Regions from separate parts of the Homo sapiens genome. Here region 2 is linked to region 1. Evidence: fine-mapped expression QTL. Tissue or cell type: whole blood. Region 1 holds a variant in brackets; the other region holds the start of a gene. All regions are shown on one strand. Distances are from middle to middle.

The links. PIP is the estimated chance that this variant, and not a neighbour inherited with it, causes the effect.
Region 2: it holds the start of LATS2, and the variant in region 1 is fine-mapped to the expression of LATS2 in whole blood (INTERVAL, PIP 0.98).

Annotation. Positions count from the first base shown.
Region 1 is chr13:20,936,853-20,941,112 of GRCh38, reverse strand. LINC00367 (long intergenic non-protein coding RNA 367) reads left to right here. Exons shown (of 6, transcript NR_104058.1): 5 at 1,178-1,250; 6 at 2,463-2,549. Among named protein-coding and RNA genes, the nearest start is that of LINC00367, 10 kb to the left of the region's middle. RefSeq lists an enhancer at 1,014-1,513. The variant C/T (reference allele first, on the strand shown) is at 2,008.
Region 2 is chr13:21,059,589-21,063,588 of GRCh38, reverse strand. LATS2 (large tumor suppressor kinase 2) reads left to right here and starts at 2,003. Exons shown (of 8, transcript NM_014572.3): 1 at 2,003-2,243. RefSeq lists silencers at 1,789-2,588, 2,729-3,138 and an enhancer at 2,644-3,536.

The sequences.
Region 1 (4,260 bases):
ACATCTATACTATAGTATCTTTAAACGCAATTACACATTCAATACTATGATGACGGTTACAAATATTTTATGACTCTATGCCATACTGTCACATTTTATGTAATCAATAAAAATTCCATATTCAAAAAGTTTTTAATAAAAAGCAAAATTATCACTATATAATGTTAAGTAAAGGGTGAAGGATACAAACTGTACGATCTCAGTTTTTTGTAGCAAGAAAAAGAAAAAAATAAATATATCAAAAATTTTACATGTCTGAAAGGAAATACGGCAAAGTTTTAAAAAATGGTGACCTCTTGTAGGTGATACAATTGTGGGTGATTTTTTTCTTCCTGATTTTTTTTTTTTTTTGAGACTGAGTCTCAGTCTGTCGCTAGGTCAGATTGCAGTGGCGCGCGCCACCACGCCCAGCTAATTTTTTGTATTTTTAGTAGAGACTGGGTTTCACCATGTTGGCCAGGCTGGTCTCGATCTCTTGACCTTGTGATCTGCCCACCTCAGCCTCCGAAAGTGCGGGGATTACAGGCATGAGCCACGGTGCCCAGCCTTTTCTTCCTAATTTTAAACATCTTCTGTATATTTCCAAATTTTCTACAGTGTAAGTGTGATATTTTACAGCACGATTATTAGAAGGTAAAAATGGGTGAGGCTCTAGGATTTCGAAGGTCACTTTCAGCTCTAAAATTCCTTAATTCACACAGCTCTTATCACTATGGTTTGTTTGTTTTTTGACTTTCCACTGATAGTAACAGAAGAGTATATTACACATTTCCTAATAGCAATGTTATGCATGTCATTGCCTGAGATTCCTAAATCTTGTGCAAGATTTCAACATTATCTGTAGAACTTAAGTGCTAGATTGTGATCTTTTATGAAGTTTTTGAGTGTTGTCAACAGACTGAGTGTTCAGATGAAAATGCCGGGAGAGGACAATACTCGTAAATGTGCATTTCTACATTTAGATATAGCACATTAGTTAGTGCTTCATCATTCAAGAGACATTTAAATTTTACTACATTATAATAACATTCTTAAGAGTTTCCTTAAGACAAGGAGATAAACTCAGTTATTGCTAAGCAAGAATCTGCTGAAACAGTAAACAAACAGGTATAAACAAGTGCATTTGAGTGTGTGGCCACATGCCTGTCACTCCCAAATTCTTGTCCTTTGTTCCCAGCTGGGGAGAAGGTAAACAGAAATGGAGAATGAGGAGTCTCAGCTCCTGGCCTCCGGCCTGCTCAAGCGAAGGGGTAGGAGATCATCCCGCCACTTGCCAGGGATATTTTGGGGATATATCTGACACTGGGTCACATGCACTAGTTGGCCTGCAACAAATCTCAGTCTCCCAGCCAGTCGGCAGCAGATCAGGCACTCCTGTCTTTGAGCCACTGTGGAAGGAACTAGCCTGGGCAGCTCCTCAAAGGGGCTCTTGCTCACATCAAAGCTGGACAGTCAGCCCCTGGTGGGCTTCAGATTCAAAGACCCCTTCTGCCCCCCATCCTTGACTGTTGCCCCTCACAGTGGTCTCACTCTTTCCTTCTTAATCAAGTATGTGGGGCCCCTTTTGGGACAAGCATCCTGGATCAGGACCCAGGCTTTTGGTGACCCAATCCAACGATTCCTGACTCATCGCCTTCTGTCCCATAGGCTTGCATTCCTCCATGAGAAATCCCCTTTGCGTCTTCTTTCAGAACTAAACTTTAGATAACTCCTTAAAACCAGAACCCAAATCTTAGCACTATCACCCACTCCCCGCAAAGGGTTACTCTCTACCCCTGAGCAAGGATGGCTTGGTCGGGGGGCATGCCCCTTGCTTTATGGTGGATTGTTACTTTTCATGCAGGGAAAAAAATAAAACGAAACATTAGTGTTTTCATTTAAAAACAAGTTGAACAGTCGTCTCCTGTAAGAGAATCCTGGAGCCCCAGACACACCTAGAAACACAAGTCTGTGCAAAAATACAATGTGTAGATTTATGGAAATGCACATGATGTGAAAAGTCCCTAA[C/T]GGATGTGTATAAAAATTCGACTTTTTTTTCTTTGAGTCTCACTCTGTCACCCAGGGTGGAGTGAGTGCAGTGGGGCAATCTCGACTCACTGCAGCCTCCGCCTTGTGGGTTCACACGATTCTCTTGTCTCAGCCTCCTGAGTAGCTGGGACTACAGGCGCACGCCACCATGCTTGGCTAATTTTTATATTTTTAGTAGAGACGGGGTTTCACCATGTTGGCCAGGCTGGTCTCAAACCCCTGACCTCAGGTAATCCACCCACCTCGGCCTCCCAAAGTGTTGGGATTTACAGGCATGAGCCACCACGCCCGGCCCAAGTCTTTTTATTCAACACCTCATTTTATTCTTATGCACTGAATGCCACATTGGTTTCTTTTTTCTCTCTCTCTCTCACTCAAAGCACTATTATTAAATCCATGATGCAGCTTACTTTCAACATTATCTTCAAATTTAGGAAATACCATTGTATCATAAGCAGTGGTAATTCCCGTCTGCCAGGTGTCTACCGGGTGAAGGGGTCTTGCTCTGTGCTGGGTGCTCAGAGCCATCCCTGCCCATCTTCGTGCTAATGCCTGGAGGCAGCCACATTAGCTCCACCTCCTGGCTTGGGAGCTGAGGCTCAGAGAGGACAACTAATCAGCCCAAGGTCCCAAGCTAATATGTGGCACACGGAGATCTCAAACCCAGCATGAGGTAGGTACTGTGACCCCTATTGCACAGATGAAAAACAGACATACCGAGATGACGGGAACTCACTCAGGGCACACAAATGATAAGTGGCAGAGAAAAGATTGGAATCAAAATCCTACAAAAATCCTACAAAATTGAGGTGAGGCACAGTGGCTCACACCTGTAATCCCAGCACTTTGGGAGGCCGAGGTGTGTGGATGATCACTTGAGCCCAGAAGTTTGAGACCAGCCCGGGCAACAAAGTGAGACCCCTGTCTTTACAAAAAAATTTAAAAATTAGCCAGATGTGGTGATGTGCCTCTGTAGTCCCAGCTACTTGGGAAGCCAAGGCAGGAGAATCTCTTGAGCCAGAGAGGTCAAGGCTACAGTGAGCTATGATCACACCACTGCACTCCAGCCTGGGTGACAGAGCGAGACTCCGTCTCAAAAAAATAAAAAAAGAAAAAAATAAATAAATAATTAAAAAAAAAAAAAAAAAAAAAGTCTGGGTGCGGTGGCTCACGCTTGTAATCCCAGCACTTTGGGAGGTGGAGGCGGGCAGATCACGAGGTCAGGAGATCGAGACCATGGTGAAACCCCATCTCTACTAAAAATATAAAAAATTAGCCGGGTGTGGTGGTGGGCGCCTGTAGTCCCAGCAACTCGGAGAGGCTGAGGCAGGAGAATGGCATGAACCTGGGAGGCGGAGCTTGCAGTGAGTCGAGATCACGCCACTGCACTCCAGCCTGGGCAACAGATCGAGACTCCGTCTCAAAAAAAAAAAAAAAAAGAAAATTTAGGACACTTTGAAAACACAGTGAACAGACACCTATAGTAATCATTTTCCCTGTCACTAAAACTCATAAAACAATGGCTTTGAATGGCTATATGATATTCCATTATGATGATATAGCCCAAATTAATTAACCATTTACTTGTTATTGGAAATTTAGGTTATTTCCTATTTTAAATAATTTAAAATGTAAATATACCTTGTAAATAACATCATATTGCATATCTTTATACATGATCTTTTTCTTTTCCTTGTATAAGCTTTATCATGAGTACATAATCTTTTTCTGCATCTTTAATTATATTCTTAAGAACATTTTTAATGCTCTTGTTATATATTTCCAAATTGATTTCCAGTGTATACTCCCAGGAGAGGGTTAATTTCATGGTTCCTCTTGTGAATGTTATCTTTATTTTATTCTTTAAATATTTCTTTTCTGTATTTTGAATAAATGTACAACAGAATGTTATGTGGATTTTCTTTTTTCCCATGTTCCAGAATTGCAGCTGAAACCAAAAGCCCTGGACAAAAAATGTGAAGTGTCTGGGAACCTTAGAGACCCCTCTGGGCTTTCCGAGAAAGGCAAGATCCGCAATCAGCTCTCCAGCCTTCTCACCTCCCCAGCCAACAGAAACTCTTCTGTCTCCTGGTTGGACTTGGGCTCAGCCTCAGCTGTTGATTAGGACAACTGTGTCCCCCAAGCAGGGGAAGAAACCTTGGAAGAGATGAAGAACAGGGAGTGAGTAAGAGCGTGTCAGTTGAGTGACCGTGAAGACAGTGGGAATGGAGG
Region 2 (4,000 bases), 120 kb before region 1:
ATCATTTGGATATCTACCTTTCATTTTCCTACCCCTTGACTGGACATTTGGGGTTTTTCTCAATTTTTCACTACTGCAAACAATGCTGAAATGATCATTGTAACTGCAACATTTTTATTAGGTATTTTATGCACAAATTTTAAGGTCCATTAAATCTATTTTATAATATTTTTCATTCCACAAGTGTTTTAAAAATTATTTTTACATCTTTGAAGGCAGAGCAGGAGCAGGATCTTTAAACACACAACAAAAAAAGATTAGCAGCCATGTGGCTTGGGGTTGGGGTGGAGAAAGTATAGTCAGCTTAAGAGTGAAAAGAAGGCCAAGCATGGTGGTGTGCGCCTGTGTTCCCAGCTACCCTAGAGGCTGAGGCAGGAGGATGGCTTGAGCTCAGGAGTTCAAGGCTGATGTGGGCTGCAGTAAGTTATGATTGTGCCACTGCACTCCAGCGTGGGCAATGGAGTGAGACTCTGTCTCTAAGAAAAAAAGGAAAAAATGTGGAAAAGTACATAGGTAATGCCAGTAGGGCTCAATTGCAGAATATTGGCTGGAGACTTATTTTGCTCCCAGTACTGTGCAAGATATCTGGGTAGCATACAGGATACTATCGAAAAATTAAATTGAATTCTAAGCTGCACGATGATGGTTTCTTTTTTTTTTTTTTGCACACTTCTGCTGGCAGGAAGGGATTACGGTTTGATTATCAGAGCCCAAAGAAGAGAGAAAACAGAGATCTGAGAAGATTCCCTGGAAGAGCTGAGGCCTTAAGAGATTGAAAGAGAGGGAGGGGAGGAGGATGAACCAGGGACTGAAGGCTGGGTGAGACTGTCAAAATAGTGCACAGATAATGACCTTTACTACTGTTTCCCATGAGAGTAAAATTTAAAAATTTCACAAGAGTTTGTCAATTAAAGAGGAAATCGAGTTGACTTTAAACACTATATTGACCCTCAGCATCACTTGCCACAGATATAGGTGGTAGGAAGTATGATGTTAGGAGAGCCAGAAGTAGACTGAGGATTTGGCTTCCAGTCTATTATTTCTACTGTGAATCTTTGCACCATCCCTGCTTCTGTCCCTGTACCAGATCCACAGTCCTCAAATGGATAGTGAAGCTGTTCAAAACCCACGACCTCACTTGCTGGTATATACGGTACTATACTATTCCCTACACCATAAAATACTTCTCAGAAAGAAAATATACATGGGGAGGGGAGGTTGATTAAATTAAATCAGGTTAAATTTGGGTGTGCATCAGACGTTCTTTTTTTTTTTTTTTTGAGACGGAGTTTTGCTCTTCTTGCCTAGGCTGGAGTGCAATGATGCGATCTCAGGTCACCGCAACCTCCGCCTCCCGGGTTCCAGTGATTCTCTTGCCTCAGCCTCCCGAAGAGCTGGGATTACAGGCATGAGCCACCACGCCTGGCTAATTTTGTATTTTTAATAGAGACGGGGGTTTCTCCAAGTTGGTCAGGCTGGTCTCGAACTCCCGACCTCAGGTGATCCACCCGCCTAGACCTCTCAAAGTGCTGGGATTACAGGCGTGAGCCACCGCTTCTGGCAAACGTCCTTCTTAATTGTTTGATTCCACTGTCCCAATAGCCGTCTGTCCTTTTCTGCCCCTATTTTTAGTGTCCAGCCACTAGTTGGTAACTTGGTGGCTCCTTCAGGCCTGCTAACTTTTTTTTTTCTTTCACCAAGACTGGTATGAGATACTTAAGAATAGTGGCTTTAACGACAGTTACCAACTTTTAATACAAATGCAGTCGAGAGGGCAAATACTCAAGTTTGGGGGCAGATAGCAGCCAGTCAAATAGGTCCGAGAGGCCCTGGCGAGCTACCGCAGGCCAGCAGGGAGGCCGTGGGCAGGTGGCGGTCGAGGCCGGAGGCAGGAAGCACGGCCGGGCGGGGCTGGGCGGAGCGGCCGCGGAGGAGCAGGGGCCGCAGGCGCCCCGCCCGGACTGGTATGCGGCCGAGAGTGACGCGGGAGGCGGGGTCACGTGACGCCCGTGGAATGCCAACAATGTAGCGAATGTCCCACTTGGGTCTGCGCTTTGGAACCGCGGCGTGAGCGCCCCGGGAAGATGGAGCAGTCGCCGTCCACGCCACCGCCGCCGCCCGGGGCTCCCCCGTCCCTGCGGGGCCAGCAGCAGCTCCAGCCACCAGTGCCCGGTCTCCCGGCGCGAGAGGCCCGGGAGCCGCCGGCCAGGACGCCCCCGAGGGTGTAGACCGCGCCCCTGGAGGTGAGGGGGCTGGGAGCTGGGGTCGGGGCGGCAGCTCGGAGGGTGGCGAGAGTTTCCGCGAAGCGGTCGAGCCCTGCGGCTCCGCGCACCTACTGTGGTGCCGAGGCTCCGGGAAGGGCGCCCGGCGGGGCGGCCGAGGAAGTTTGTCCGGACGGAGCCCTGCGCCCTGCCCCCACGGTCCGCGCCCGCCCGGAGCCGCCCCCGCCCGGCGGCTCGTAGTCCAGGCCGTACGGAGCCCGCGGAGCCGGTTCCAGAGGAGCCGGGGAAGTTGGAGGCCGGCGTCGGGCGGGGGCAGCGGGGCTGCGCCGCTTTGTTGTGCGGCGACCGGGGCGGCCGGGATCCCGGCGGGGCAGGGGCGGCGCGGGCCGGGGGCGGTGTCCTAGACCCGAAAGGCCGTAGCGCCGGGCGCGCCTCTGCTTCCGCTGTCTCCGGGGGATCGGCTTTTCACTAGACGCCCGGCCGGGCGCCCCTGACAGCCTCGGGACCCCCGGTCCGGCGGCGCAGCGGTCCCACGGATCCGGGGCCATCCTCCCGGCCGCGCCATCGTCCCACGGGCCAATCAGTCCTTCAGAGCCCGCCCTGTTGGCCCCCGCCGGCCGCCCCGTCGTCCCGCGAGCCGACGGACCCACGGCGGTGCCGCAGTCGAGGCCGCGCCGCCCCTCAGCCCCCGGTGGCTGCGCCGCCTCACCCACTGCCGCGCGGTTCCCACCCCGTTCCCCGCGGCCGCGCCGCCGGCTCACGGGCCAGTCAGCCCCTCAGAGGCCACCGGACCCTGGGGGCGCCGTTCCTCCCGGGCTGCGGGCGGCCAGGCCCTGCTCGGCGTCTCCCGGCCGGCTGCCGCGCCAACTCTGCGAGTTTGCTCACGGTCTTGGCGGGACGCGGCCCGAGGCGCAGGAGCGCTTTCGTGGCCACGCGAACGGCGGCCGTTGCATAACACGCCATTCCCGTGCCCTAGTTTAGCGACGTGTGGGGGGTTTGGCTTTCTCTTCTGATGTAAGCTCACCTGCGCTTAGCTCCCCAGCCGGACTCTGGAGATGGGGATTCTGACATCATTCACATCTTGCCATCACATCCTTCAGCCCAACTCCAGAACTTCTGGGGAGCTTTCCCTCGGGGATGGAGTGCGGCCTGGAGCAAACCCGTTTGTGAAATGCAAGTCTCCAGTGTCCCGAGGGTTGGGAACGGGGGGCGAGGCGAGGAATGGACCCTGAAGAAGGTAAAACCCACCCGACCAGGGCGCCAAGCAGCCGGTAACAGGGTCCCGAGTTAGCTCGGCGGCTGGCGGCTGTTCTGAGGCCTTTGGATGAGAAATGCTATTTTGCGAGGATCACCATGAAAGAACTTAACTTGCAGATTTTTTTGACAAAAATGTTGTTATTTTAAGACAAGATCTCGCTCTGTCTCCCAGGCTGGAGGGGAGTGGCGCGATCTCGGCTCACTGCAACCTCCGTCTCCCAGGTTCGAGCGATTCTCCTGCCTTAGCCTCCCACGTAGCTGGGATTACAGGCCCGCGCCACCAGCCCAGCTAATTTTGTATTTTTTAGTAGAGACGGGTTTCGCCGTGTTGGCCAGGCTGGCTCTCGAACTCCTGACCTCAGGTGATCCACCTGCCTCCGTCTCCCAGAGTGCTGGGATTACAGGCGTGAGCCACCGCGCCCCACCTGACAAGAATTTTGAACAAGAACTTTTACATTTTCACGCTTCTCTAGGATGGATATGAGTGTTTTTTGTTGTTGTTGTTGTTGTTTTTTGAGACG